Linked DNA regions of Homo sapiens. The protein of the gene in region 3 purifies or fractionates together with the protein of the main gene of each other region. This does not show direct contact. Each region holds a gene or a part of one and is shown on either strand. Other genes may lie near its edges. The genes, in order: SPINDOC, CDK20, CFAP20, MRPS31, HNRNPUL1, DCAF1 and ACIN1.

What was found.
Region 1: the proteins of CFAP20 (region 3) and SPINDOC purify together in Homo sapiens (affinity purification with mass spectrometry; one large-scale study listed by BioGRID and IntAct). This does not show direct contact.
Region 2: the proteins of CFAP20 (region 3) and CDK20 purify together in Homo sapiens (affinity purification with mass spectrometry; 3 studies listed by BioGRID and IntAct, with this or other methods). This does not show direct contact.
Region 4: the proteins of CFAP20 (region 3) and MRPS31 purify together in Homo sapiens (affinity purification with mass spectrometry; one large-scale study listed by BioGRID and IntAct). This does not show direct contact.
Region 5: the proteins of CFAP20 (region 3) and HNRNPUL1 purify together in Homo sapiens (affinity purification with mass spectrometry; one large-scale study listed by BioGRID and IntAct). This does not show direct contact.
Region 6: the proteins of CFAP20 (region 3) and DCAF1 purify together in Homo sapiens (affinity purification with mass spectrometry; one large-scale study listed by BioGRID and IntAct). This does not show direct contact.
Region 7: the proteins of CFAP20 (region 3) and ACIN1 purify together in Homo sapiens (affinity purification with mass spectrometry, with the first as the bait; one large-scale study listed by BioGRID). This does not show direct contact.

Annotation. Positions count from the first base shown.
Region 1 is NC_000011.10:63,822,913-63,826,492, reverse strand, and holds part of SPINDOC (spindlin interactor and repressor of chromatin-binding protein), read right to left. Parts: intron 3,359-3,580; coding exon of another isoform or gene 3,337-3,358; exon of another isoform or gene 846-3,336; intron 1-845. UniProt on the Homo sapiens protein: Chromatin protein that stabilizes SPIN1 and enhances its association with histone H3 trimethylated at both 'Lys-4' and 'Lys-9' (H3K4me3K9me3).
Region 2 is NC_000009.12:87,968,004-87,971,999, forward strand, and holds part of CDK20 (cyclin-dependent kinase 20), read right to left. Parts: intron 3,333-3,996; coding exon 3,144-3,332; intron 2,895-3,143; coding exon 2,773-2,894; intron 2,643-2,772; coding exon of another isoform or gene 2,628-2,642; coding exon 2,565-2,627; intron 1,917-2,564; coding exon 1,793-1,916; coding exon of another isoform or gene 1,772-1,792; exon of another isoform or gene 1,771-1,771; intron 1,347-1,770; coding exon 1,191-1,346; intron 865-1,190; exon of another isoform or gene 567-864; intron 171-566; coding exon of another isoform or gene 92-170; intron 1-91. UniProt on the Homo sapiens protein: Required for high-level Shh responses in the developing neural tube.
Region 3 is NC_000016.10:58,115,137-58,119,481, reverse strand, and holds part of CFAP20 (cilia- and flagella-associated protein 20), read left to right. Parts: intron 1-2,530; coding exon 2,531-2,610; intron 2,611-3,329; coding exon 3,330-3,441; intron 3,442-4,024; coding exon 4,025-4,213; intron 4,214-4,345. UniProt on the Homo sapiens protein: Cilium- and flagellum-specific protein that plays a role in axonemal structure organization and motility. Microtubule inner protein (MIP) part of the dynein-decorated doublet microtubules (DMTs) in cilia axoneme, which is required for motile cilia beating.
Region 4 is NC_000013.11:40,764,042-40,768,741, forward strand, and holds part of MRPS31 (small ribosomal subunit protein mS31), read right to left. Parts: intron 2,993-4,700; coding exon 2,705-2,992; intron 1-2,704.
Region 5 is NC_000019.10:41,291,159-41,295,858, forward strand, and holds part of HNRNPUL1 (heterogeneous nuclear ribonucleoprotein U-like protein 1), read left to right. Parts: intron 1-1,086; coding exon 1,087-1,353; intron 1,354-3,179; coding exon 3,180-3,302; intron 3,303-3,399; coding exon 3,400-3,528; intron 3,529-4,700.
Region 6 is NC_000003.12:51,416,222-51,420,921, forward strand, and holds part of DCAF1 (DDB1- and CUL4-associated factor 1), read right to left. Parts: coding exon 3,513-4,700; intron 2,656-3,512; coding exon 2,457-2,655; intron 1,978-2,456; coding exon 1,895-1,977; intron 651-1,894; coding exon 566-650; intron 1-565. UniProt on the Homo sapiens protein: Acts both as a substrate recognition component of E3 ubiquitin-protein ligase complexes and as an atypical serine/threonine-protein kinase, playing key roles in various processes such as cell cycle, telomerase regulation and histone modification.
Region 7 is NC_000014.9:23,081,009-23,085,708, forward strand, and holds part of ACIN1 (apoptotic chromatin condensation inducer in the nucleus), read right to left. Parts: intron 1,207-4,700; exon of another isoform or gene 829-1,206; coding exon 740-828; exon of another isoform or gene 1-739.

The DNA.
Region 1 (3,580 bases), on a different chromosome or scaffold from region 3:
ACCAAGGAGCTCATGAGGGACTACGTGGGGGACAGAAAAGACCCCTGGCGAACTTCCACCAGGCTCTTTATCTCCTGAGTGTCAACACCTACATCACCAAGACCAGGTGTCCACCTTACCAGTATGGAGAAGGCACTCATAATGGGCAAAGCTGGGCCTCGAGGCAGAGGAAAGAGGACTGAGGACTGCCGTGGCTGCGTGCAGCCATAAAAAACGAGCACGCAACAGGGACGTGTGCAAAGGTTACGTTACATTAGGGCTGGGCATGATGGCTCATGCCTGTAATCCCAGCACTTTGGGAGGCCAGGGTGAGCAGATCACTTGAGGTCAGGAGTTTGAGACCAGCCTGGCTAACATGGAGAACCCCTTTACTAAAATACAAAGAAATTAGGCAGGCATAGTGGTGCACCCCTCTAATCCCAGCTACTCAGGAGGCTGAGGCGGGAGAGTCGCGTGAACCTGGGAGGTGGAGGTTGCAGTGAGCCAAGATCACGCCACTGCACTCCAGCCTGGGCAATAGAGTGAGACTGTCTCAAAAAAAAAAAAAGTTACATTACATTGAAAGGCAAAAACAGAAGATGGTGATTTCAACTACTGCACTGTCTATATTGGGAAGGATTTATTTGTGTGTGTTCCTTTTCTACCCTGTTTTTAGAGACACGATTATTTAAAATGTGGCACAGAAAACAGGTACAATTTTGCTGTGCGATGTGCTGGAATTTAAAATGACTTAGTGGCTGCCACCCCATTTTTATCACCTACCAAATGCTATTCTGTGTTCCCAGAACACAGTTTGTCTCCCTGATAAACTATAGGCTCCCTGAAGGAACACTGAACCCCATTTGTTCATTAATTTGACAATAATTTATTGAGTACTATATGCCCAATGCCGTTTGGATTGCTAGGGGTACAGCGGTGAATGGAGCTCCCTAAGTGGCCTTCTGGGACTTCACATTCTATTTATCAGAGCTAATAAATAGGATAAACAAATAAAAAATGCAGTATGTTATATATGGACAGATGCAAAGTAGCAAAGTACACCAGGGAAAGGAGATAGGATAATAGGATAGCAGAAAGCTGACAGGGGACCACAGACACAGAGGGAGTGAGGAGCCAGTGAGGCAGACAGGGAGGGAACAGCATTTTGAGCAGAGGGAGGAGCAAATGTGGATGCCCTGGTGGAGCACGCTGGCTTCCCCAGGAACAGCAAGGCCAGTGCCTGTGCGGGGAGCGGGATGTGGGGGGAGAGGTCAGGAGCCTGTGGGGAGCTCACTAGTCACCATGAAGGCTCTGGCTTTTATCTGGAGTGCAACAGGAGCAGCACAGAAAGGCCATGAGTAGAGGAGTGACTGGATCTGACTTGTGTTCTCAGCAGGGACACTCTGGCTGCTACAGGAGAGCAGAGCATAGCGGGCAAAGCTCAGCAGCCAGGAGACCTGGCTTAGGTTTGTTACAGGAACCAGGCGAGAGCCGGCCCTGACTAGGGTAGCAGCAGTGGATGTGGTGACAGCAGTGTGAGCTCTGAACTTGTTTTGGAGGATCGGCTGCTGGACAGATGCTGGGCTGGAGAAAGAAGAGGATGACTGTGTGGGTGTGGTCACAGCAAACTGAAGCCTGGGGCTGCCTGTTCACTGGGAAAGGGAAGATTGTGGAGTCTAGGGGTAGGGTGCATTGGTGAGACTGGGGGTTCAGTTTCAATGTGGCGAGTTTGAGATTTTTTTTTTTTTTTGAGATGGAGTCTCGCTCTGTCGCCAGGCTGGAGTGCGGTGGCACAATGTTTGAGATCTTTTAGACACCCATGTAGAGACGCCACCTGGGCAACTGGAAAAGAGGATGGAACCAGGAAGGAGCAGCCAAGGTGGGCATTATGAGCACACACATGTCATTGAAAGCTGTGAACCTGGATGAGATCTCCCAGGGAGCGAGTACCGACACTGACCCACGGCTGCGGATACTTAAGCACGTACTCATTCACCAAACACATAAGCCGGGCCTACGCTGTGCCAGGCACTGTTCTGGTTACCGCAGATATTATAGTGCAGGACGCAAACACCCTAACCTGCAGGCCCTTACATTCTAGAAAGGGAAAGGCAGACAATGATACGACGTGTTCCAACTCTGGGAGCTGAGAGTGAGCGGCAAGAGAAACTGAGAAGGAACAGTTAGTGAGGGAAGAGGAACACCAGGCGAGCAGCTGCCTGAAAAGCCAAGGGAAGAAAGTTGTCTCCAGGAAGGAGTGAGTGATCAGCCCACCGTAACCACGAGATCATAAAGAGAAGGACCGGCCAGGTGCAGTGGCTCATGCCTGTAATCCCAGCACTTTGGGAGGCCGAGGTGGGCGGATCACCCGAGGTCAGGAGTTTGAGACTAGCCTGGCCAATAGGGTGAGACGCCATCTCTACTAATAATACAAAAAAATTAGCCAGGCGTGGTGGCGCACGCCTGTAATCCCAGCTACTCAGGAGGCTGAGGAAGGAGAATCGCTTGAACTTGGGAGGCGGAGGTTGCAGTGAGCCAAGATTGCACCACTGCACTCCAGCCTGGGCGACAAGAGCAAAACTCCATCTCCAAAAAAAAAAAAGAAAAAGAAAAACAGGCCAGGTGCAGTGGCTCACGCCTGTAATCCCAGCATTTTGGGAGGTTGAGGCGGGCAGATCACGAGGTCAGGAGATCGAGACCATCCTGGCTAACACAGTGAAACCCCGTCTCTACTAAAAATACAAAAAATTAGCCAGGTGTGGTGGTGGGCGCCTGTAGTCCCAGCTCCTTGGGAGGCTGAGGCAGAAGAATGGTGTGAACCTGGGAGGAGGCGGAGCTTGCAGTGAGCCAAGATCACGCCACTGCACTCCAGCCTGGGCGACAGAGCGAGACTCCATCTCCAAAATAAAAAAAAGAAAAACACCAGCAAGACAGAGAGGCTCCTCTTTCCATTACTTGTCAGTGGGTCATTGTGGCCCACCTCCTCTCCTGGCCTGCACACTCTCCCCATCCTCCTCTGGCAAGGTCCTCAGAAGGTTCTAGAGTCTTCCTGGACTACCTCACATTCACATTCATCAGCTCAGCTAACCTGACCACAGGTGGCCTTTTCCAACTGTTAAATCCACGATTTTTACACCTCTAATTTTTTTTAAAGTGGCAGGATCTTTATTTAAATAAAGTCTTCAGAGAACTTCAATACGTACATAACAACACAGAAAGTAGAGACATTTTGGTCGAAGCCTCACAGGTTTCTGAGAAATCTGTCCAAGCTTTGGGTTCGTGAGATCGTCTGAAACCACAGGTCCAGAGCCTCTGCTCCGCAAAGAACCGCCACGGGGGCCCCTGGTTTTTAAAGATTTACTGCCTCCAGCCTATATACCTGGACACAGAATTTTGGGGGACAAAGGCTGTCTCACTCATGCCATCTCCCAGGGTGCCTCCCTCGGGCACAGGCTCCAGGAACACTTGTGTACCAGTGAGGTATCCTCTATGGTTTCCCAGGCATCTCCAACCTCCACGAAGGCTGCCACTGCTGACAACACCCTACAATTGCCTCCGCCCCCTCAGATCACTCAAGCAGCCTGCTGAAGCCCCTTCCTCT
Region 2 (3,996 bases), on a different chromosome or scaffold from region 3:
AAGGCCATCTGAGAAGTGACATTTAAGCCAAGACTTGAGACATAAGCAAGTGGGACATGAGGCTCCAGGCCAGGGACAAAAGTGTACTGACCCCTGGGGCTGGAGAGGAGTGAGCACAGGGCACAACAGCAGGCAGCGTCATGAGGTGATGGCACCCAAGCATACGACATCTGTGGGTCACAAAAAGGACCCTGGCTTTTCCTCTGAGATGGAGCCACAGGAGGGCCCTGGCAGAGAAGGAATGTGTCCTGTTCTACTTGGATAAAGTTACTCTGTCTGCCAGGTGGAGAAGAGATTAAATGGGATGAGGGGAGACCCAGATTCTGGGAGGCAACCCAAGAGATAAGGGTCACACGGCTTGGGTACACTGTGGACACAGAGCCCACAGGAGCTGCTGACAGTGGAGACCAAGAGGGCGTATGTAAACACACGCGGCTGGTGCTGAGTGCAGGGAGGGGACAGGGACCCCTGAGAGACACCCTGACACCTGTCAGCCCATGCTCCTGTGGTCATCGTCCTCCCAGGCCTACCAGCCATAACCAGCCTTCCTGGGTCCTCTCTTCCAGGCCTCTGCCCACCATTTCTCTCTTCAGCGAACACCTCCTCAAACATCTCATGCTTAAACCTGCCCTCCACCAGGAAGCTTTGCTTGACCCCAAAGTCGGCCTTGCCTCTCTCCTGGGGCTCCCACAGCTGGAGAACATGACCTCTTGTGACCTTTTGGACCTGGAGCTACCTCACCACCAGGAGTGCCCCGCGGAGGTAGGACTGATTGTTTACCATCTGTGCAGGGCCCAGGACAATCCCTGCATGTGCCAGATGTGCAGAAAATACTTGCTAATGGAATAAAGGAATGAGTCCCCAGTGACTCTCTTACTGTATCTGCCACAGGGTCAGGGGCAGCCCAGAAACCTGCACTCCCGGACACGCGCTCTCCTGAGAGTTGGGCATGCCCCTCGTATGGGCCACCCTCAGGGGAAGTCTGGGGATGTCCAGTGGGGTCTACTCATGAGAGGCACACCTGCTCCAAGGCCCCTGTCCCCTGGGTTCCAGATGTCTGGTGCTGGTCCATGCCAATCACAGGTTCTGAGGGTCGCTGATGTGATGGGGTCACATGGCTACCAAGTACAGAGTACCAGGGTGATGGGGAGGGGAGCTGAAGGAGCAGAGACTACAGCCTCTCCCCCTACCTTGGAAGCTGCGATGCGCTGGTGAGGAGGGTAGAGAAGGAATTGACCCAGCAGATCCAATGCCTGGGGAGAGACGTCAGGCAGCACCTCCTCCAGGGGCATGGGCACCTGCTCCTTAAAGGAGATCTTGTTGTAGTCCGGCAGCTCAGTGAGCTCCTGGGCCAGGGAGAAGGAACAGGGTACAATGAGAGTAGTTCCCGACCCTTGCCATGCTCTCTGCTGTCAACTCTCAGCCCCTAACACACACTCACATGGGGGGTGCTCTCCCATCCATGTGTCTCCCTGACCCATCATTCATTCACTCACCCACCCCTGTATTCCTTCATCCATCCCCTTGCCCTCTCAGATGACGACTCTGTGCACAGCTTGCTGAGACACTGCACATGTGTGTACTGGGGTGAAAAGGGACAAAGGACAGGATCTACCCCAACCCAAATGACAGCAGGAAGGAGGAAGCCCTGAGTTGGGCCAGGACAGTGGTCCCTGTCCATCAAGGGGGGTTGGGGCCAGGAGAGAGAAGGTTCAGGGGAGGGAGTGGTTACTTGCTGTTGGGAGTGGAGTAAACCTGCCCCACACCCACCTCACCAAGGGCCCCTACAAACCGGCCAGACTTGAGGGTTTGGGGTGCCCAAGATGCGAAGCACATAGCAAAGCTGTTCAATATCGTTCTTGCCCGGGAAAAGGGGGGACCCATTCAACAGCTCCCCCATGATGCAGCCCACAGACCTGTGGACACAGAGCCCCAAGCAGGTCAGAGATCTCCCACCATGGACCACAGACCCACCCACAGAGCAGCTCTAACACTGCACTCCAGGGCAAGGCCCCACAAGCCAGCCCTGGAGCCTCACGTCCAGAGGCCCAGTCCCTGAACCCTCAAAGCCCTCAACCCTAGAACCCAGAGCAAAGCCCCAGCTGTTCCAAGACTTCTCGGAGACTCCTGCTCTAGGACACTTCTGGGGCAGACCTGCAAACCTGCCCCAAATCTCAGACCCATGGGCACTGCCAACTATCTTCTTGCTGCAAAACAAGCTCAGAGCTTTCATGTCCAAGGACACAGGCCTCTGACCAGCTCAGAGATGCCATATCCTAGGATCTAACTCCAGCACATATCGGCTCAGACCACCTCCCCATCTAGCCCAGAAAGCTTCCCACCTGGGACCACCATTCTCATCCCACCTGGCCCCTACCCAGCTCGAAAACATCATAGTGAGGAACCCCAACCCCAAAGTGCTCAGAATACCCCAACCAGGGAAGACACCCTTAAGGAAGCCTAAACTCCCACCAGGGAAAAGACCACCAAACAGCTCAGAGACCTCAGAGCCTAGCAGAAATCCATGAGCCATGTTACCCTTTGACCACCCACAGGGGTCTCACCACAGATCGACGCCCTGGTCATACTGGCGGGCACCATACAGGAGCTCGGGGGCTCGGTACCACCTGCGAGGAAGAGGGCTGGCAGGCACTGGGCTGAGAAAAGGATGCCTGGGGAGGTGACCCCAGCCCCACAAGCAATGTCTGGAGAAAAGGCCCAGAAGCATCTCTTCCCCATGGAGAAGACTGGAAGGGATCTGGCCCTCCCTACCTGGTGGCCACCTGGTGTGTGTAGAGGCGGCTGCCGTCTGGGGAAAAGACTCGAGCCAGGCCAAAGTCCGCTATCTTGAGCTGGCCTGAGGCGCTGATGAGCAGGTTGGCAGGTTTCAGGTCCTGGGAGTACCAAAAGAAGCATCAGTCCCTCCAAATCCCCCATAGGACCTTGGGACAAGCGGGCTTGGCAGTCTAACCACTCAGGTCAGCCCCGGTCCCCACCTCCTCCAGGGCCATGCCCTGGCCACTTACCTGGAGGCCTTGACCAGCTCTGTCCCAACTTCTTATCACACCTTTTACAAGGGCTAGCCCCATCCCCAAGCCAAGTCAGCTCCCCAGACCCCATGCCCGGCCTATGCTGAGACTGACCCGATGTACAATGTTGTTGGCATGGCAGAAGGCGACACCCTTGAGCAGCATCTGCAGGTAGCTCTTGACCTGTGCCTGGGCTAGTGGCCTCTGGGCATGGCGCACCACCTCGGCCAGATCCGACAGCATGAACTCAAAGGCCAGCACAAAGCCTCCACCGTGTGGGAACACAGCCTTCAGTTGTACCACCTGTGGGCAGGACATCTTGTTAGCCCCCAGACTCAAGTCACCAGACCCTCTCTGTGACCCTGAGACCCCAGCCCATGCCCTGACAGAGGACCCTGTATCCAAAAAGACAGTAAGCAAAGAAGGTGACGTGGACCTGAGCTAAGAATCAGAGAGCTCGATGCTCATGATTTGCTCTGCTCTCCTGAGATAAGGTGTGCCCCCACTCTAATTCTCCATGAACACTAAAAGGTCTAAAAAAGGTCATTTAGTGGCACCATCTGGTCCGCCCACCCAGCCTACCCGCCTGAAAATCATCTGGATGGTCACACATGAGATGGACAGGTCTCCTCCTGTTTCCTCTAGAACCACCGAATCCCAGCACCAAGGAAAGGACACCAGGAATCCCACCTTTCCCAGTGCTGGGACAGCTACAGACACATCACAAACACTGAGGCCAGTACTGTCAGAGGAGCCAGGCTACACAGAGAGTGAGCTGAGAGACAGGACTCTTAATGAACTCACAGCACAAAGGACAAACAGTTTAACAAATAAATGAATAAAAGGGATATATTCAGATTCTGTAAGTACAGGAACCAAAATACAAGGGGGCTGGGCATGACGTCTCATGCCCGTAATCCCAGTACTTTGAGAGGCCAAGGTGGGCGGATGGCTTGAACCCAGGTGT
Region 3 (4,345 bases):
AGATCTCTGGCTTCCTATAATAGTCCACGGGGGATGTGTTATCCAGGAATTTTTAAAACCCTCCTTGAACCTATTCATATGTGCCAGCTCTTAGGGTGACAGATTCCAGAAGTCAGCAAATATTTGAACGCTTAGTTTATGGCTAGCACTGTGCTAAGCATTGTCGAAGATAGAAATGATGCTTCATAACTGGTCTTGGCTCTTGCTTGAGCTTATTCTTTTTTAAGGAGACAAGACTTGGTTGCAGTTGTGGAAAAGGTGGGCAGTGACATCAGATGTCACCTTTAGAACACCAGGCAGACCATGAGTGGATCAGACTCACAGTGACAGAGCTCACAGAGACTAATGTCTAAAAACAGAAACATATTATTAATAATTTATGTTGAAAAATAAAACTACCAGACCCAACACTGATTTATCCCCATATGCAAGTCTAATAGCCAAATCGTAATCAGCAGGCTGATGAGTGAACAAGAGGAGCTTTAGTCAGTGTGATTGAGTCATTGATTATGGCAGCCTAACACAGCCCTTTCCACAAAGAAAGACCGTATGTTTGTCTTTCTGATGTCTCCTGTTCTAAACCTAGTTGATCTTTTTCATATGTTATTCCATTCAGCCCTAATAGTCCAGCCTTGTTTTTTTGTTTGTTTGTTCATTTTTGAGACAGGATCTCACTCTGTCGCCCAGGCTTGAGTACAGTGGCACAATCACGGCTCACTGCAGCCTCGACCTCCCAGGCTCAGGTTATCCTCCCACCTCAGCCTCCTGAGGAACTGAGACGATAGGCACGTGCCACTACACCTGGCTAATTTTTTGTAGAGATGGGGTTTCATCATGTTGTCCAGACTGGTCTTGAACTCCTGAGCTCAAGCAGTTCTCTCGCCTCGGCCTCCCAAAGTGCTGGGATTACAAGCGTGAACCACCATGCCTGACCCCAGCCATGTTTTTTTGGTTTTGTTTTTTTTTTTTCGTTTTTTGTTTTGTTTTTTTTGAGATAGGGTCTTGCTCTGTCACCTACTCCTCTAGGCTGGAGTGCAGTGGCACAAACACAGCTCACTGCAGCCTGGACCTCCTGAGCTCAAGTGATCCTCCCACCTTAGCCTCCCAAGTAGTTGGGACTATAGGCACACTACAGGTGCACGCCACCACACCTGGCTAATTTTTTGTAGAAACAATGTCTTACTATGTTGCCCAAGCTGATCTTGAACTCCTGAGCTCAAGCTATCCTCCTGCCTTGGCCTCCCAAAGTGCTGGGATTACAGGCATGAGCCACTGTGCCTGGCCCCAGCCCTGTTTTGAAAGTGCCTTTGCATATCTCTGTTCTGTCCATATTAGTTGCTTAAAAGTTTAATGCTTGAAGATAATTGTTCTTTCCTAAATATTTTGAGAGGAGGAATCTGTATTGAATATTGATTCCTCCCCATCATCTACCTCCTACATATGCAGCAAACAATACAAAACAATGTAGGATGAGGTGCTAAATTATGTCGTCTAGACAACATGAGCCAGAAAAACAAATCAGAGAAAAGAGAGGTCAGTGTGGGCTGAAAATGCTAAAGAAGGCATCTGTGTGTGGCACAGATGGGAATTGAATTCCTGCTTTAAAAAGTAGAAAATTAGGCAAAAGCAGATAGGGAAGCATGAAGCAGGATAACTCCAGGGGAGGAATGCTTTCACTTTTTGTTGCTGCCCTCCTCAGTAACACTCAGCTTTTCTTTGGCTTTTCTGGCCAAAGAAATATACAAGGCAGGACGGGCGCAGTGGCCCATGCCTGTAATTCCAGCACTTTGGGAGGCCAAGGCAGGTGGATCACAAGGTCAGGAGTTCGAGACCAGCCTGGCCAACATGGTGAAACCCCGTCTCTACTAAAGATACAAAAAAAAAAATCGGCTGGGCATGGTGCTGCACGCTTATAATCCCAGCTACTCAGGAGGCTGAGGCAAGAGAATCGCTTGAACCTGGAAGGCAGAGGTTGCGGTGAGCCAAGATCGCGCCATTGCACTCCAGCCTGGGCGACAGGGCGAGACTCCGTCTCAGAAAAAAGAAAAAAGAAAGAGAAAGAAAGAAATCTACGAGGCAGTATGAGGCAGTGGAAAGGCTGCTGAATCCTTAGTCTCCTACTTAGGGTTTGGCATTTGCAGTTCCGGGGTGCCAATGTCCACATTTGTAAAATGAAAACAGTATCACCTGCCTTGTTGTTTTTATTGTGTGAGGCTTAAGTGAGAAGGGGATGTGTGTGATATTCCTGGTGCATAGTAGGCATTCAGTAGATATTAGCTGAATCTAAATTGAGTTGATGTATTTGGGGAGAAGTTTCCCCAGATTTAGGGATTGCCAAGTTACCTGGGATTCCCTTGGTGGTTGGTGTGACCCTGTCTAGAGGTAATAGCTTGGCTTACTTACATATAAGCTTCAGTGTGCTGTGTCACAAATTTCTTTGTACGCCTCTTGGGCTACCGTGGTTTTCTTTAAATAGTCCTATTCAGCCTTGTCAGATATTTCAGTACTAATCGAATTTTCTTTCTTGTAGGTACGGAATGGCCACATCAAAAGAATCACTGATAATGACATCCAGTCCCTGGTGCTAGAGATTGAAGGGACAAATGTAAGGTAGGTTGCCACCTCTGTTCTCCCAGAGACATCATATACTAGGGAGGCAGTACGTCATAGAGGTTAATAGCACAGACTGCGGAGTCAGAGTGCCGGATGTGAGTCTATCTCTGCCACTTAGAGCTTACCATGGGCAAGTTACTGAATCCCCCAGACCTTAGCATACTCATCTGTACAATGGGCAGAATAATAGTACATTTTCCTTATAGGGTTATTGCGAGGAGTAAATAAATGAATATATATAAAACACGTAAAGCCTTGCTTAGCACATAGTAAGCACGATGTCAGTATTAGCTATATTATTAACCAAAGTGTGTGTTGGGGTGGGGAGTGGGCAGTGTTGTACAGCTCATCCAGTGGGTGGACAGTGTGGTTTTCAGTGCCATAGAGGTCTCAGTTTTGGTTTTCTGTCATTCGATGGCTCCCCTGGACCAGAATTGAGGTCTTCTCTCACTGGAGGAGCTTCTAAGATCCACTGTCTGGCTTTGTTTTTCAGATATTTTATTGCTGCTGTCTAGTCCTGTGTTAAGCTTTTGTTTCTGGGTCCAGCGTTTGTTAAAGCAGCCGCTGACTTAGGGCTGAGGGATTCACTGGGTGGCGTGTCTGAATCTTTTAGATCTGCTTTCCAGTGTATCCTCTTGGACCGTGTGTTATTGTTGTGCATACCACAAAGGAAGAGAGTCCAGGAGTGTGTTTATTAGTATTTCCTCTCTCTACAGCACCACATATATCACATGCCCTGCAGACCCCAAGAAGACGCTGGGAATTAAACTTCCTTTCCTTGTCATGATTATCAAAAACCTGAAGAAGTATTTTACCTTCGAAGTGCAGGTAAGTATGTGTACATGAATGTGTCCACTCTTGGCTATACCAAAGTGATAGCCTTTGAACTGATGGGAAAAAGTGACCCTACAAAGTATCTTTATCCTTTTGCATGTATTCTTTTCTGCTTCTAGTATAAGCCCAGTGCAGTCCTTGTTATGTAAATTTGATATTAGTAATAAAATTTAATCAGGTTTTTAAAGAAACAGCACCTAGAAAACCTAGTAATTTCAAAGTGTCAGAGTTAGCGTGGTATCCATTTGGGGAGTGATTATTTAATAGTGGGTGGCTGTTCTGTTTTAGTATTTCTGATTTTTCAAAAGGAAGAACATTTATATACTCTATGGTCTGAGAGCCTGCTGACTGTGTTATATGTCATAAGCAGCTGGTGTTGTCTTGGCAACAAACAAGATAAACTTGCTACTTCCGGGCCATCTGCATGCAGTGTATGACCTGTGTCTGGTCTGTTTATTTTCCTCTAAGTCTCAGCCTTGGGAAAGCAAGCTGTGGGAATTCAGGTCCTTGTCTGGACAAGGTTGTGTGCTTCTTCCAAGACAGAGCTAGTGTGATGCTTCTTCTCTGTATTTCACAGGTACTAGATGACAAGAATGTGCGTCGTCGCTTTCGGGCAAGTAACTACCAGAGCACCACCCGGGTCAAACCCTTCATCTGCACCATGCCCATGCGGCTGGATGACGGCTGGAACCAGATTCAGTTCAACTTGCTAGACTTCACACGGCGAGCATACGGCACCAATTACATCGAGACCCTCAGAGTGCAGGTACTGCTCCTTTCCCAGATAGAGCCCTGGGTTGGGGATAGGGCACACTGCGTCTAATATTGGCTTGTGGCCCACATAGCAGAACAGTGTGGGTTTCTGGCTTCAGTTGCCACACTGTCCAGGGAGCTTTGG
Region 4 (4,700 bases), on a different chromosome or scaffold from region 3:
GACCCTGGCTCCCAAACTGTGTCCTAAGGTACTCTGGGGCAGCACAGGAAAATACAACCATGTCAATAATGATGTAAATTAGGCAGTTCACAGTAACATTACAGCAGTCCCTTCATATCTGCAGGGGTTGGGGGGAGGTGGGGCCGTGGGATACAGGCATTGTTTCCAGGAACAGCTCTGGCCCCCACCAGGATGGATGCACAAGCCCCTTACATAAAATGGCAGAGTACCTGCATATAAGTAATGCACATCCTCCGAATACTTTTAAATTATCTCTAGATTACTTATAATACCTAATTATGTAAGTAGTTATATTGTATTTTTTTTTAATATTTTCAATCAGAAATTGGTTGAATCTGTGGATACAGAACCTGCACATACAGAGGACCAACTGTATATTGCTCCATTCCTATCAATGACATTATATCTTTGTCAAGATTGTTTCTCAGGAGTGGTTGTGATAAAAACAAATATCCCAGGAAAATCAATGTGGAACAAGGGTAAACACGGTAATGTCCAATCTTATTACAAGGCTAGGTCATTAAAAAGAAAATACAACTTTCTCTTGGCTCACTTTCTCTTGAGACACCCGCCCTGGAACCCAGCCACCATGCAGGGATAAAGCCCAGCCCACAAAGAAAGCCACATGTAGGTGTTTCTGCTAATAAGGTCTCAGCTGACAGCCAGCAGCAACTGCCAGACCTATGAGTGAGCAAACTTCAGACAATTCCAGCCTCAGACTTCTAAGTCTTCCAACTGAGGCCCCAGACATCACAGAGCACAGATTGGCCTTCCCCCACTGTGTTCTAGTCAAATCGCTAACCCACAGAATCTGTGAGCATAATGAATGAATGTTTTATGCCACTAAGTTTGGGAGGTAGTGTAGCCATGGTAACCATATCAATGAAGGTTCAATATTTAATACAAACAAAGAAAAGCAGTCTATGTATGAAGCAATGATGACAGTGTCTCATGAAGCAAAGATCATGACTAACCTAATCCCGTGCACCTTGGAGTCCTTGAAAAAGAGGGAGGGGAGGAAAAAATCATTAAAAGACACCTTTTTAAAACTCAAAACAAATGTACCTCATTCACCAGTCTTTTGATGTGGGACCAAAGCCTCTTCTTTGAACATAGGACCACTAATAGAGGTTCTAAGACACATCTTTTATATACATCACACCCATCCTCCAGTATTTTCAATTTCAGTTTAAGTGGAAAAGTGGAGCAAGAATGTAAGAAAGCTTACAAAGCAATCTAAGTGTATGATCTTCCCACACATGTATGTTTGCCTCACTCATACCTAATTGGAAAGAAAAATTTTAAATGACCTTTACTGACTCTTTCCAAAGCATTCAACTCACTTTACCATTTCTGTAATCGTTAATTCAATTATAATTATAATAAAGAGCATGATGGATCATAAACAGGTCTAGGAGCTTTAAAAATGCCATTCTTGAAAAGTATTTATATATGTTTGTATTATTTATTTCCATATACTTATATATAACCATTTTGTTTCTAAAAGCAGGAGGAGGAGGAGGAAGTACCTATTATGGGTACTGATAGTCTGAATTAGCTTACTCTACTACCCAATCATACTTTCTAGAGGTATTTTTGATATAACGTAGAAACCAAGAAGTTCCATTAAAATGTTAAATCAGTTTGGGAAACAGAAGACTATTAAAATCTGTTTGTTCTGGTAACAGAAGTCAGTGATGAGTATCCTAAAGCCACATAGCTTACTACTTGAATTAATGACATCATTGAAATACATCATTACATAGCACTAAAAAAAATACTGCCATTTAACCTACCACACAATGCCAAGTATCACTGATTGCATTTAGAATTAAATATAATACTCTTTTGACAAACACAAATAATTTTAATACTCTGAGGAAACTACCAAGAAAGCTGAAAGCACTGATAGGTATTGATCAAGGGAAGTCATATAAAGCAATTGTAATCAACATGCTAAAACTTTATTCCAGAAATCTTTAAAATGGAAAATTTTAAATAAGCAAGTCCTTTACAGACATTAAGCTACCTTCAAATCAAGATGTAAATGATATTGTTAATTAACAGCTTAAAGAGGCAATTACATGGCAGTTAATAACACTGATAAATATGTAAGTGTGTGAAATTCTCAATGAGATCATTTCTCCTTTCCTTTCTCTGGATTGTGTACAGATATCCTCTTGTTATTTAAATATAATACAATAACAGCATTTCTCAAGTAATTATTATTTTGTTGTTGTTGTTGTTTGAGACAGAGTCTCGCTTGATCCCCCAGGCTGGAGTGCAGTGGCACAATTCTTGGCTCACTGCAACCTCTGCCTCCTGGGTTCAAACAGTCCTCCTGCCTCAGCCTCCCAAGTTGCTGGGATTACAAGCACGCACCACCATGCCCAGCTGACTTTTGTAGTTTTAGTAGAGACGGGGTTTCACCATGTTGGCCAGGCTGGTCTCCAAACTCCTGACCTCAAGTGATCCGCCCGCCTCGTCCTCCCAAAGTGCTGGGATTACAGGTGTGAGCCACCATGCCCAGCCTCGAGTAATTATTAGAGTCCCTGTGTTTACAAGCTGATATTTATTCTTCATTAATTCAACATTTCCCAAGTACTTGTATTAAAAATATTTTTTACCAAAACAAAAAGCTTACTGGAGTTTCAAACAACATCTGAATTACAATTAAATTTACCTCTTCTTTGGAGCATATTCTGTAGCTCTTCGAAGCCTGCCAAGTGTAGCTTCCAAACTTTTAAGTGGTCTTCTTTTGGGGGGCTTTGTTGTTCGTACATTTACTGTGCTTAATTCAACTTTCATGCCCTTAATAATGCCTAACAAGTCTTTTTTCGTATTTTCCTTTTCACTGTCTTGGCTCTCTGAAGTCTCCTTGGAAGTCTCCTCAGTTCGAACAGACTGCTTATCTTTCTTGCTACAGATCACACTGTTAGTGCCAAAATATCTTTGGATGTTATTTTTTGTCCTGGAAAGATGCATTAAAGAAAAAAATGAAAAATACAATGCAGTCTACAATAAAGTAAAAAACTTACTTACAATAAAGTAAAAAACTATGTATCTAAGATTTTTTTTCAATTCAAGCCCTTTCCGTTGCTTTTTTTTTTTTGAGACGGAGTTTCGCTCTTGTTGCCCAGGCTGGAGTGCAATGGCGCGATCTTGGCTCACCGCAAACCCCGCCTCCAGGGTTCAAGCAATTCTCCTGCCTCAACCTCCCGAGCAGCTAGGATTGTAGGCATGTGCCACCATGCCCAGCTAATTTTGTATTTTTAGCAAAGATGGGGTTTCCCCATGTTGGCCAGGCTGGTCTCTTTTTATAATTATTGTTAACAACCATAACAGCAGCAACTTACCATTTATTAGCATATACTACATGTCTCATCTTGTGAAATATACTTTATTTACATTTCTCATACCCACATTAACTCCCTAAGGTCTCTATTTTGCAGATAAGGAAACTGAAAATCAGAGAAGTCCCAAAGTCATGTAGCTCACAGCTCACTAAGAACTAAAACACACTGTGTGCCACAAATAAGTAGAGGTGTGCTGAGATATTGATCACTTGGTCCTTGGGGTGGCCAGGGGAGGTCTGGGGGTGCTGGTGCTCCCAAGTCTGTTCCCTCCCTCCATTTACCCCAGGGTTGGGTAGAAAAACACTGACATGGTTAATAAATGACAATTTATTATTCTCAAACCCAAATGTGACTGACTGCAAGTCCTTGCTCTTAACACAATACCTCTTTAAAAGTTATCATTAAACAATACAAAAATAAATTTCTATCAATAAAAAAGATTATTTCAAAAAAACTTTCTGAGTGGGTGTTATCTAATCTGATCAACATTGTCATCGAGCTACATGCTACTTAACCCATAACCATTTGTAAGGAAAGCTAGAATGGAACAGAAAAGAGAATAATCAATGGCTAGAAATGTCATTTGTGCTTTCTTCACTAGATACATTTATGAAAAAGAACAACACAAATGATTACATCTATATTAGACTCATGCAAAAAGATTTCCTAATTCTAAGTAATCCAAATATCCAATTTTATTCTGTGGGGTTAAAAATTTGTTTTGGTATTTGACTACTGAAGAATTTTCAAAACTCTGAATGTGTTAGTTTCAGTAAGAGGGTATATTAAAAAATTATTTGCTAAATATAGTGAATATCTACTCTGTGGTGGGCACTATACTAGGTACTGACAATATATTAGTAAATAAGAATTTCATGGTCCCTGCCTTTATGAAGCTGACGTGCTACAGCACTGCTTCTCAAACTTTAAGCTTAGCCCCCACCCCCCAACTAGGAGGGCACTGACCTCCAACAGGCATCACCCCGCTAAATCCCCTGGAAGTCTTTAATATGCATAAAAATTTTTTTTTTTTGAGACAGGGCCTCACTCTGTCAGACAGGCTGGAGTGCAGTGGTGTGATCTCAGCTCACTGCAGCCTTGACCTCCCTGAGCTCAGGTGATCCTCCCACCTCAGCCTCCTAACTGGGACTAATTTTTTGTAGAGACAGGGTTTCGCCATGTTGCCCAGGCTTGAATTCCTAGGCTCAAGCGATCTGCCCGCCTCCCAAAGTGCTGGGATTACAGGTGTGAGCCACCACACCTGGCCCACAGAAATTATCTATGCTCCTTGCTAAAACATACTTTGGTCCCACCAAAGAATTC
Region 5 (4,700 bases), on a different chromosome or scaffold from region 3:
CCCCTCATCTTTTATGCCTCAGCCAATCTGACCTTGTGTTCTGTCACTGCTAGGCTTATATACAAGCAACTGAGAAACCTCAGAAACTTGCTTCTAGGTAGGTCATCTTACTGAATTATGATAGAGTGTCCTTGTCTCATTCCCCACTGGTCGCTAAGCTCTGTCGGTCCCAGATTATGCAGACATGTGTATCAGAAAGAGTACGAACTCAGGGAACATGTTGAACAAGCTGAACTCAGTTCGAAAAGGCCCTGCGGTGGCTTTCCTTCATCTGTTATATTCATAGACTGCCCTTTCTGGGTTTCTTTTGTTTGTTTTTGTAGAGATGGGGTCTCTTTCTGTTACCCAGGCTGTACTTGAACTCCTGGCCTCAAGCATCCTCCTGCCTTGGCTGCTCAAAGTGATGGGATTATAGGCGTGAGCCACTGCACCTGTCTCCTCATCAGTTTTCAGGACAGGACTGGACCACCTTTTCCTTCGTCTTCATCTCAGTCTAGGCACAAGACTCAAATACTTGGAGCTTCTTAAAATTACCTGCTTTAGGACAGGTGCAGTGGCTCAAGCCTATAATTCCAACAGTTTGGCAGGCCAAGGTGGGAAGATCACTTGAGTCCAGGATTTCAAGACCAGCCTGGGCAACATAACAAGACCCTGTCTCTACAAAAAAATTTAAAAATTAGCCAGGTGTGGAACATGCCTGTAGTCCCAGCTACTCAGGAGGCTGAGGTGGGAGGATTGCTTGAACCTGGAAGTTTGAGGTTGCGGTGAGCCCTAGCTGTGCCACTGCACTCAGCCTGGGGGACAGGGTGAGACCCTGTCTCAAAAAAAAAAAAAACAAAAAAAAAAAACTCTTGCTTACTTGCTTCATATCCACCAACTTTGGGGTCTTAGGCAAGGAGGACTTTGGGCTGGACATTCTCTGAGATGTTCACTGATGCTGCCCAGCTTACCTGTATGTTGGGGAAGGATGCACTTCAATCTGGAAAGCTGTCCACATTCTACTCCCTGCATCTACTGTCCTCACATTTGACTCCCAGTGCCTATGGCAAGAGTTGGCAATCATATTCCTTTGGCTTTTTCTCCTAGGATTTTGAATGTGGAAATGACGTGGAACTGTCTTTTACCAAGAATGGAAAGTGGATGGGCATTGCTTTCCGAATCCAGAAGGAAGCCTTGGGGGGTCAGGCCCTCTATCCTCATGTCCTGGTGAAGAATTGCGCAGTGGAGTTCAACTTCGGACAGAGAGCAGAGCCCTACTGTTCTGTCCTCCCGGGGTTTACCTTCATCCAGCACCTTCCCCTTAGTGAGCGTATCCGGGGCACCGTTGGACCAAAGAGCAAGGCAGAATGTGAGGTGAGTGGGGCCAGAATGTATTGGTGGCCACCTTGCTGCCAAGACAGAGGAGACACACACACACACACACACACAGACTTGCTGCGAGAGTAGCCTTGGGGCAAGTGGCCACTTTGTCCCAGCTCCTCAGGGTTGGACTCAGAGCTGAAAAGCTGCTCTGAGTGTGAGGTGAGGGGTGTTGGTGTGACCTAAGTTGAAGTCGGAGAGGCTACCTAAATCTCAGAAAGATTGCATCTTCTTCTTAAGTGAGGCCAGAATAGGGGAAAAGGAGGCTTTTCTTACAGCAGAAAAGGACACTAGGCGCTTCTTGGGGAGTGCACTGTGCCACCAAGTGTTCTTTTTTTTTCTTTAGAGACAGGGTCTCGCTCTGTCACCCAGGCTGGAGTGCAGTGGTGCGATCACGGCTTACTGCAGCCTTGACCTTCCAGGCTCAAGTGATCCTCCCACCTCAGCTTCTCGAGTAGCTGGGACCACAGGTACATGCCACCATGCCAGGCTAACTTTTTTAGCCACTGAGCCTGGCCCACCGAGTGTTCTTGAAGGAGGTTGAGTAAGTTCCACCTCTCACCCAGAGCTATCAAAAGATAAATGGCCTTTGGGAAGATTTGATTCCAAGAGCTATACTAGTGTCTTTTTTCTTAAAACAATATTTTTCTTGTATGTGTAAGTTATTTATGCTTGTTCTAGAAAATTAAGAAGTAAAAAATTTAAATTTTCATAATGCCATCATCTACAAATAAGTTTACTTGCAGAGTTTTGGAGTTCATCTGTTCTTTTTAATGTCTAAGTGCCTGTTTTATGCTCACAAACATTTATCATTGAGATTCTATGGTATAAGCATTATGATACCCTGCTCTTTTCACTTCACATTATTTTGTGAGCTTTATCCCATCACATAAAAACCTCTCTTTGAACATCATTTTTTCTTTTTTAAAAATCCTTCAAGGGAATGAACGTCATTCTTAATGGCCTTACAAACTCGCCACTCCCCCCTAGTCGGGCATTTAAGATGCATCTGTGTTTACCAAATTCTAAATGTACTGATTAGATACAATTCATGTCCTTGTGTGTGCAGCTCTGTTCCTATTTCATACTTAAAGAAAGTTGTACCACTTCTACCCACTCCATGGGGCCAGTCCCAGTACACAGCCTTCCCTGGGCTATTGCAGGGGGCGGGGAATGGGTCACATAATCCTGTAAATGGGCTGGGTTTGGTGGCAAATGCCTATAATTCCAGCACTTTGGGAGGCCAAGAAGGGAGGAGGATCCCTTGAGTATAGGAGTTTGAGACCAGTCTGGGCAACATAAGGAGACTCTCATTTCTACCAAAAAAAGAGAGAAAAAGATTAGCTGGGTGTGATGGTTTGTATCTGTAGTTCTAGCTACTCTGGAGGCTGATGTAGAAGGATTGCTTGAGCCTGGGAGTTCAAGGCTGCAGTGAGCTGTAATTGGGCCATTACACGCCAGCCTGGGCAATAGAGTGAGACCCTGTCTCAAAAAAACAAAATACTATAAATGCTAATGATGACAGCACTTGGTTTTTTGTTTTTGTTTTCCCCCGAAAGTCCTGGGATTATAGGCGTGAGCTACCGTGCCTGGCCAGCACTTGACTTAATGCTCACCCTGTCCCAGGCACTGTGCTCAGAGTCTGACAAGCCTGATCTTTTTGAATCCCGATACCAGTACTGTGAGGTAGATGGTATTACTGCTTCCGCTTTGTAGAGGCAGCCACAGCTCAGAGGTCCAGAGTCACACTCACAGTCACCACCGAGCCAAGTGGTGCCATACCACCATGCCGCAACACCTTCCCTGTCTTGTTCTTGTAGATTCTGATGATGGTGGGCCTGCCTGCTGCTGGCAAGACCACATGGGCCATCAAACATGCAGCCTCCAACCCTTCCAAGAAGTACAACATCCTGGGTACCAATGCCATCATGGATAAGATGCGGGTAAGGCCAGCCACTGGACTCTCCTTACTCACCTCCAACCTACTGAGTGCTGCCCTGCAACTAAAATCACTCACCCCTCACCAATTCCTGCCCGCAGGTGATGGGCCTACGCCGGCAGCGGAACTATGCTGGCCGCTGGGATGTCCTGATCCAGCAGGCCACCCAGTGCCTCAACCGCCTCATCCAGATTGCTGCCCGCAAGAAACGCAACTATATCCTAGATCAGGTACTTAATGATGACCATTGTGTCCTCAGGAGAAGGGAGGGGACCCCTTGCATGCCTGAGAATCTCCCTCTGGTCCCTTTCTTTTTTCCCCCGTAATGATGATGGACTGCTGTGCTAGTCGGGGGGGTCAGACCTTGTCATACATGATGACATGGTACTACACACAGCTGAGCCTGGACTGGGATCATGATCTAGGCCTACTTACTCAGACTCATCAGCAGCCCCAAAGAACATCAGGTAAGAACTGTTTAGCAAAATGGAAGGAGTATGGATTTCCAAGCCTGAGAGACTGGAGCTTGAATGCCAGCTCGGCTACTCCCTAGCTCTGTGCCTTTGGGCAGCTGACTTTATTCTCTGAATCTCCATCTCTTGGTTTGTAAAACAGGGATCTCAATACCATCTGCACCCCTAACGCAGGACCTGGCACTTAGTAGCTGGTGATTATTGTTAAATACTCTACAGAATAGGTAGAGTAGCTTTCATGCCAACAGCAGTGCTGTAAGGTAAATGCTATTATTGCTTCCGTCATTTTCTCTTCACAAATACGTATGACTGGCAGGTACATACCTAAGTCATATTTTCTACCTACACTTCAGTTAATGGTGGAGTTCTTAACATCAGGGACCTTGGAACCTTTGTATTTGAACATAAATATTGTATGCAGCTGCAGGTGTATCCTTTTTATGAAAAAGAAGGGAAAAAAAAACAGTTTTTTGTCCCTATCTTTCAGCATTCTCAAAAGGATGAGTGACCCAAAAATCATTACAGATTCCTGTCTCAGAGTAATGAGTTCCACATGGTTATTGCCTATGCAACGTCATTGCCTATTGACATTTGTCCTGAAGGCTTTCACAAGTAACAAAGGGTGTCTCCTTATTTTCTATGTTTGGGGATCTGTGAATGAGCCTCTGTTCCCTTCAGCCTTGCATTTGTGCTTTCTTAAGAACCTGTGAGTGAGCAAATATGTAAACTAAGTAACACCCTGCCCTTGTAGCCTTCCTGAAGTGCCTTCCATACGTGTAGGCCTGGATACTTGGTGACCATGAGTTCAAAGGGCTCCTGATAAGAGTGGAGGTGGGGACAGCGTTTGGCTTTGTCAGAATGGTAGTTTGCTTGTTAGAAAGGAATCGCCAGAGACCGAGTTGCCTTCACATAGGAATGAGGATCCTACA
Region 6 (4,700 bases), on a different chromosome or scaffold from region 3:
CCCCTCACTGACCTCAGCTCTCCTCCCACCTCCCAAGCAAGGGCTTTTCCCTTGCCATTTCCTGTGCCTTACGCTGTTCCTCCAGGTATCTTCCTGAATCTCGCGTTTCCTTCAAGGCTCTGCTTAAACATTACCCCATCAGTGATGCTGTCTACCCTAGATAAAAGAGAAGTCCCCCACACCACCACCAAGCATTTCCTACCTCTTACCCTGCTTTCATTTTCTCTGAAACACTTACCACCTAAATTTACCGTATATTTGCTTCTTTATTGTCTCCCCAATGAGGGTCCATAAAGGCAGGGGTTTCATTTCTAATCTAAAACTTACTAAGAATTCAAAAATATCTGTGGTGCTAATGACATCTTTCTCAATGTCACATTTAGCCCTTATACATTTTTCCCATACAGCTCAGAACTATATTATCATACTTTTAGATTCTAACTAGAAGGAATATCACTGATTTCTAGTTGCCCAAAGGACTTAGGTCCTCACATTCTATCAAGAAGATTTCAGTATGAACAAATGGGTATGATCAGCTTGAAAACAGTGGTTCTTAAGTACTTACGTGGGCAATGTCTCCTTTTGTGCCGATGACCCGATCCTGGGAGTGCTTACTGAACTCAACATAGTGATCTTCTGTGAAGGAATGCCTATGGACAAACAACAGGAGCACTGAAGTGACAGATCTTCAGGACATATTCCTGCAACCAACTGAAACACAGGTGACCCCCAGCCTCTTGCACAATCACACTCACCTAAAGATCCTGGACTCCCAAAGAGGAAACAATCATACACTTAGATTACAAAGAAAATTCCTTCTATCACCTTAACCAAGCAGATACAAAATAATGAATGGGAATTCCTTAGAGAAATGACAAACAGGGCACATGTGCCTTTGAAACACGCAGCAAAGGGGCCAGGCATGGTAGCTCACTCCTACAATCCCAGCACTTTGAGAGGCTGAGGCAGGTGGATTGTCTAAGCTCAGGAGTTCGAGACCACCCTGGGCAACATGTCGAAACCCTATCTCTATCAAAAATGCAAAAAATTAGCCAGGCGTGGTGGCATATGCCTGTGGTCCCAGCTACTCAGCAGGCTGAGATGAGAGGATCACTTGAGCCTGGGAGGTGGAGGTTGCAGTAGGTCATGTTTGTGCCACCGCACTCCAACCTAAGTGACAGAATGAGACCCCGTCTAAAGAAGGAAAGAAAAGAAAAGGCCAGGTGCGGTGGCTCAGGCCTGTAATCCCAGCACTTTGGGAGGCCAAGGCCAGCGGATCACAAGGTCAGGAGATCAACACCATCCTGGCTAACACAGTGAAACGCTGTCTCTACTAAAAATATAAAATATTAGCCAGGTGTGGTGGCGGGCGCCTCTAGTCCCAGCTGCTCGGGAGGCTAAGGCAGGAGAACGGTGTGAACCCGGGAGGCGGAGCTTGCAGTAGGCTGAGATCGCGCCACTGCACTCCAGCCTGGGCGACAGAACGAGACTCTGTCTCACAAAAAATAAAAAAAAGAAAAAAAAAAGGAAAGGAAAGGAAAGGAGAGGAGAAGAGAGGAGAGAGAAAAGGAGGGGAGGTGAGGGGGGAGGGGAGGGGAGAGGAGAGGAGAGGAGACACAGCAAAGACTGCAATGTCCTATGTGAACATGGGAAAATACATAGATTCTGGGTCGGGGTCTGCTGCATAATGAGAATGTATATACCTCATAAAAGTATCTAGGAATTAAGAAAGATAAAGTCTTATTAAACATGAGTCTTAGATGAGGAAGAGAGAAGTTAACAATAACCGACAGCATCCTCTTTCCCCAAAAGGCTTCCAGTCTAAGAACCAAATGAAGGGGGGTATAAACTAGGTAAATAAAGCACAGACTAGGTTCCAAAAGCAGATACATACTTCATATCAAATACTGACTTCATTCCCCAAAGTGCAGACAAAGGCTGGCTCCAAGTAGCAGATGTCAGCAGCAAGGACCCATCCTAAAAGAAAAAGGCGCAAGGTGGGTAACCACGTATTTACATACATGCAGATGTCACTACCTGCCATTAGCATTTTTAAAGATTTGCATAAAAATGTTGTTGAATTAAAGAGACAATTTTATAATCCCCAGAAACCAAGAAATGGTCAGAAGCCACTAGGATTTGAATACATACACCTATAGTGTCCTATAAAATAACCAAACTTAAGAGAATATTAAATCCTACTGAACTAGCCACAAAAATAGAATAGATAAAAGGGAGGGGGGAAAATGAGAAGATGTCAAAGATGGTTCCTTTCTTCCTACTAACTTTGCCATATTCCTCAGTCTCCATCTGAAATATGAATTAACCTCAACTAGACTTTCCAGTTGAGGACTCATTTAAAAGAGAGAGCTCAATAAAGGGTAAGCCTCCTTTACTCTAGTTCACCAATTCATCTTGGAAGAATGACTGAGAGCATCCTAGGAAGGAACCCTTACCCTGGAAGGTTCAAGATGTGTGATGGCTGAGTTGTGACAGTTATAGCTGGCCTCCTCCTGTCCACTAAACACATTATAGAGCTTCAGCTGCCCTGTGCAGGTGCCAAGCATCAGGAACCGCTCCCGTGCTGAGAATGCACAGCAGGTGAAGCCACTCTCATCTTCATTGGCTTCCCGGAACACTGAAATAGGACGGAATCTAAGCAAAAAAAAGAGAGAATCACAGGCAAAGAATGTGCAGGGACTCAGAAAAAGCAAACTGCTAGGATAGAAGAAAAAGCACAGAACATTAATGTTTCAAATGGCTTCTTCCAAAATCACAGTGACCTTCAGTGCTTTTTATTTTAAATAAGAAAAAGATTTCCACTTACAAATTTAAATAACAAAAATTCCCATGTTTAGGCCAGACACAGTGGCTCATGCCTATAATCCTAGCACTTTGGGAGGCCGAAGGGGGGGTATCAATTGAGGTCAGGAATTCAAGACCAGCCTGGCCAACATGGTAAAACCCCATCTCTACTAAAAATGCAAAAATTAGCTAGATATGGTGGTGCCTGCCTGTAATCCCAGCTACTCAGGAGGCTGAGGCAGGAGAATCACTCGAACCTAGGAGGCAGAGGTTGCAGTGAGCCAAGATAGCACCACTGTACTCCAGCCTGGGCGATAGAGAGACTCCGTCTCCAAAAAAAAAAAAAATTCCCATGTTTAAAACCTGTGATCCCGTAACCTTTATGTAAGATTTGTCAAGAATCAGAACAGGAAGCAACTTGCACCAGCACAAGTTTGGGAGCCTCCTTATGGACAGTAGTAATGAGGGGGTGTGGGTTCTAGAAAACATACTAGTTGAGATGAGAACACAAACGATTATATCAATATACTGCCAACAATCACACAAGGAACCCATGGTTGACAAAAGGTGGTACAATTACATTGTTCAAGTATTACACAAAGTAACAATCAGTGGTATTTCAGGACAACTATGCTGATACTGCCCAGTTTGATTTAAATAAAAGAATCATTCCAATTCCCAGGGAGTAAGAAGGGGCCTCTTCTTACCTGCTAAAGATAAGGTGCCTATCAAAGCATCCGCCATCCACCCCTCCATACTTTGGAAATGATGCCCTGCGGTTTAGCCTTGACGTAAAGTTTATTGGCGCTTGCCGCCTCTGTTTTGGCTCAGGACATTGGTGAGGAGTAAAGAGGGAGAAAGGTGGGCAGGTGGCAACTGGATTCTTGCAGCGAGCATGTTGTTCTCTAAGATACTCTGTGATTATACTGTCCAGCGTAGGTGGGGAAGGAAGATGTCTGTCCAGCTGTTTTTTTATGGCTGGGCTTTGGCTGTAGGCACCATGGTCCGACTTCTGCCGCAACACTCTGATTTTCCTGCCATTGCAGGGTGATGGCCTCTCTCTGATAAAACTGATTCTACCAATCAAAGGGGAGTTGCCTGCATAAGATGGGCCGGGCAGAGCTAGCGGACCCTGGGGGGGCCGTGGCTGAGGATGAGCAGTAGGGGCAGAAGGCGCAGAGGCACCCACAGCAGCATGGCTGCCCAGACGAGTTGCAATGCCATTAGCGATACGAGGGGTTCGGGGTAGAGAGACAGGAGAAGCAGCAGCAGTGACTGGGGTAAAGGCAGAAGAATGGGAGGCAGCAGTCATGGGCAGGTCAGCCTCTTTTGTCAGCACGGTTGCTGTTTCTCCAAGCCCTTTAGAAATAAGATGGTTTCGTATCAACAAAAGCAGCTCTTTCTCAGGGAAGGAGATCCTTGACTGGGCAACAACATCTGCTTTCTGCAGTCGTGCTAGGGAAACATCAGTGCCAATGAGAAGTGGTTTTCCTGACACCCGTTCAATGAGTTCAGCAGCATACTTGCAGAACTTGACATGGTCACTGCGCTTGTCCTGCAGCACAGGCTCCTTCATCAGCTGCTGGATCTGGCAGCTGCTGAAAAGGGGCAGTTTACTGATGATCTGCCGGACAGTGCTACTGCGAGACAGGCCCACTAGGGCTTTGCAGGCCAGGGCCCGGATTTGGTCTGCATCTGTGATGGGCATCTTAATGGACAGTAAGGACAGGAGCACCTTGATGCCGTTGTTGGACTGAACCACATTCCACATCTTGGCCAGGGTGTGCTCACTGCTTTTAGGGTTCTGAGGCAGCTTTCTCCGAGGAGTACCAGAGATAAATTTACCAATACTGGATATTCGGTTATCTGGGCCACACACACAATTGATGATAATC
Region 7 (4,700 bases), on a different chromosome or scaffold from region 3:
ACAATGAAGCTACTTGTATGTAGTTTAAATTTTAGCTTCAAGCACCCCCTTTTTTTTTTTTTCAGTAAAATATTAGCAGAACATCTGGAAAGTAAAAGGGTGGATAGGGGGCTGAAAGGAACTAACCTACTATCAATTAATACGATTATCTTTTTATCATTTTGGTATATTTCTTTTTGTTCTTTCCTCTAATCATTTCCTTTGTACAGTCATAATTACACTACACATAACATTTTTGTATTCTGCCCACTTAGTGTTATATAACTTTAAAGCTTTGATTGAATGGTTAATTATGTCATATCTTGTCTAATAATGTGCTTTAAGAATACAGAGCAGCCTGCTAATTTTCAAATTTAAACTTTTAAAAAATATTCACTTAGAAATCTAAAAGGCAGAGCAGATCTAAATAAAAAGACAAAACGAACAACAAAAAGATGACAAAGAGGAGAAGGAAGATAACCACAAAGAAATCTAGAGGCCAGGCAGTGGCTCATGCCTGTAATCCCAATCCTTTGGGAGGCTGAGGTGGAAGGACTGCTTAAGCCTAGGAGGTCGAGGCTGTAGTAAGCTGTGATTGTGCCACTGCACTCCAGCCTAGGCGACAGAGCCAGACTCTGTCCCAAAAAAGAAAAACAAAACCCCTAAATGTAGAGACATACAAACTCAAAACAAGTCTGAAGAAGAGAAGATATCCAAAGCATTACTGAAGAGGTAATGCTTTAGGAGGTATCTGAGTTACCTGTCTGACCCTAGATGATCGTCTTTCTCCTTTCCTTGGTTTCTCATCATCAGAGTCACCTTTCTCTTCAGAAATTGAGGAGCTTTTTCCTATTGAATGAAAAAGAATCAAGTCAGATTCATGAAGTGAAGACTCATTCATGGCTTTTTAAAAATCAGGCTTTCTAATATCCAACCAATTATAGCATATGAGCCTATCAAGACATATCTGTATCGGTTTCTTTGACTTCTACACTAAAGAAAAGACTACAAAAAGCCCTAACTAGGTCAGGGTCTTATTGGTAATTCTTGGTGTGCAAGTCTAGAATATTTTCAACACCTCGAAGCCAATTCACATGTTATAAATAACTCAAATAAATGTAAAATAATTTCCAGGGGCTTCAAACTGTCTAGCAGGGATGTACAAATATGAAGTGTACTTATTTCTACAAAGTGTTCTTACTCTGAATAAAGTTTAAGACTTCATTATGTTCTGTATCCATTTTTTTGGATTGCCTATTACTACTACTTTCTAATTTCAACCAAAATATTATGATGAAATATATGAATTTGCACAATAACAAACTCAAGAAATAAATACTTAGAGGAATGTTTTTCAGCGCCCTAAAGTTCCTGAAATTACTTCAAGCCAACTGGATGGGGTTTCAGAATTGGGTCCTGTCTATTAGGTTTTATGTATTAGAGCTCAATATTTTTTTTTTTTTTTTTTTTTTTTCTGAGATGGAGTCTCACTCTGTCACCCAGGCTGGATGCAGTGGTGCAATCTCGCCTCACTGCGACCTCTGCCCCCTGGCTTCAAACCAGTCTCATGCCTCAGCCTCCTGAGTAGCTGGGATTACAGGTGCCCACCACCATGCCTGGCTAATTTTTGTATTTTTAGTAGATATGGGGTTTCATCCTGTTGGACAGGCTGGTCTCAAACTCCTGACCTCAAGTGATCTGCCCGCCTTGGCCTCCCAAAGTGCTGGGATTACAGGCATGAGCTCACATGTTTTTCTTTTTTTTTTTTTGAGACAGAGTTTTGCTCTTGTTGCCCAGGATGGAGTGCAATGGCATGATCTAGGCTCACCACAACCTCCGCCTCCCAGGTTCAAGCGATTCTCCTGCTTCAGCCTACCGGGCAGCTGGGACTGCAGGCGCACGCCACCATACCTGGCTAATTTCGGTATTTTTTACAGAGGCGGGGTTTCATCATGTTGCCTAGGCTGGTTCGAACTCCTGGGCTCAAGCAATCCCCCCGCCTTGGCCTCCCAAAGTGCTGGAATTACAGGCGTGAGTCACCGCACCCGGACTAGGTGAGATTTTTTTTTTTTTTAAGGAAAAAAAAAGTTCTATTAAAAAGCTTGGAAACCACCAATCTAGGTTATCCTGAACAATAAATCCATGTAAAACGGAAAGAAAGTTTCACTCAAATTCCATGAAGGAAGGTAACTGGGTAAATCACTTAAGTAATTTGGGTCTCAATATCTTTCTTTTTAGACAGTGTTTTACTCTGTCACCCAGGCTGGAGTGCAGTGGCATGATCATGGCTCACTGCAGCCTCAGCCTCCAGGGCTCAAGTAATCCTCCCACCCCGGTCCTCCCAAAGTGCTGAGATTAAGGTATAAACCACTGTGCCCGAGTCTCAAATGTCATGATTGAGAAAAAGGAGGGGCTGCACTAGATGATTTCCAAATTTCCTACCAGAATTAAGATCAACTAGGCGGCCGGGCACGGTGGCTCACGCCTGTAATCCTAGCACTTTGAGAGGTCGAGGCAGGCGGATCACGACGTCAGGAGATCGAGACCATCCTGGCTAACATGGTGAAACCCTGTCTCTACTAAAAATACAAAAAATTAGCCAGGCGTGGCGGCAGGTGCCTGTAGTCCCAGCTACTCAGGAGGCTGAGGCAGAATGGCGTGAACCTGGGAGGCGGAGCTTGCAGTGAGTCGAGATCGCGCCACTGCACTCCAGCCTGGGCGACAGAGCGAGACTCCGTCTCAAAAAAACAAAAAAGATCAACTATGTACAGTAGCAATACTAACATCAATGAGAACCAGTTTAGAAAATAGCAGGAAGATAATTATATTCCAGATACTTGATCAGCTAGATTGGACTCAATGTTAATACAGTACAAAAGGTTCTGTACACAAAACCATGTTGTATAGTAATAGTGCAAATAAAGCAGATGGTATGCAGCTCTAACCCAAGATCTTCTCTCTTATTTTTTTTTTTTTCTGAGAGAGAGTCTTGCTCGTTGCCCAGGCTGGAGTGCAATGGCACGATTTCGGTTCACTGCAACCTCCGCCTCCTGGGTTCAAGTGATTCTCCTGCCTCAGCCTCCTGAGTAACTGGGACTACAGGCGCCCGCCACCACGCCTGGTTAACTTTTGTATTTTTAGTAGAGACGGGGTTTTGCCACGTTGGCCAGGCTGGTCTCGAACTCCTGACCTTGTCATCCTCCCCCTCCTTGGCCTCCCAAAGTGCTGGGATTACAGGTGTAAGCCACCATGCCCGGCCTTCTCTATTTCTATATCCTTACAATCTAAAATGAACTAGGCGAATGCTTCTGTAATAATAATTAAAAAATCAAAATGAGGCTGGGCACGGTGGCTCATGCCTGTAATCTCAGCACATTGAGAGGCCGAGGCGGGCAGATCACGAGGTCGGGAGTTTGAGATTAGCCTGGCCAATTAGGTAAAACCTCATCTCTACTAAAAATACAAAAAAAATTTTAGCTGGGCGTGGTGGCGTACGCCTGCAGTCCCAGCTACTCAGGGGGCTGAGGCAGAAGAATCGCTTGAACCTGGGAGGCAGAGGTTGTAGTGAGCCGAGATGGCGCTATTGCACTCCAGCCTGGGCGACAGAGCGAGACTCCATCTCAAAAAAGAAAAAAAAAAAAAAAAACCCAAAATGAAACTAATGAAATCAATTAGAAGACTACACATATTTTGTAAAACTTTACTTCATGATCATTTGATTAAAAGGACCTCTGAGTATATACCATTTCGTATCTGGGTAAGTGAAGAAAGATTTGTGTTATGGTTGTTCATACAGGATATATGATTAGAATATATAGTGAAAGGCCAGACTCTTTAGCAAACATTTGAAGACATCTGTAAGACAGTAGTGCAGTGAAATGAAATACTCATTTCATAATTCAGTGATCTGAAATAGGCTAAGTTATAAAATAAGTAAAACCAAAATAAAAAGTTTTCATAAATGTTAGGCAAAGTTCCTTCACAAGTATCAGTGAAAGAAGCTGATTTATCTCACACACACCAAAAAAAAAAGGCAAGTGCAAGGTTGGTCAGAGATAAATGTGTTAAAGTCAACGCTGGGCGCAGTGGCTCACGCCTGTAATCCCAGCACTTTGGGAGGCCGAGGTGGGCGATCACGAGGTCAGGAGATTAAGACCATGGTGAAACCCCGTCTCTACTAAAAATACAAAAAAAAAAATTAGTCGGGTGTGGGGGCGGGTGCCTGCAGTCCCAGCTACTTGGGATGCTGAGGCAGGAGAACGGCGTGAACCTGGAAGGCAGAGCTTGCAGTGAGCAGAGATCGCGCCACTGCACTCCAGCCTGGGCGACAGAGCGAGACTCCATCTCAAAAAACAACAACAACAAGAACAACAACAACAAAGTCAAATAACTGAGTTGCAATTTTAAAATTAGTATGTACAAGCAAAACAGCCTCTTTATCTACCTACTGTGAATTATATGCTATTTATTGAATTATAATGTTATTTTTGATACTGTAAAACTGCAGTGATAGGATTTCTGGATGATTACTCCTCTGGAAGAACTTGTAGTAAGTCATCAAAGAGATCTGGAGAAATGAACAGGGCTGTTCAGAAAGTTCTGGTCATCACTGTTTTGCAATAAAAGCAGAAACTGGAGGCGCCTCAGACATGAAACAAGAAATTAGTCAGCAATGCAAAATATAAAGAGATGAGGAATCTCTAGTTCCTTGGAAAGAGCTG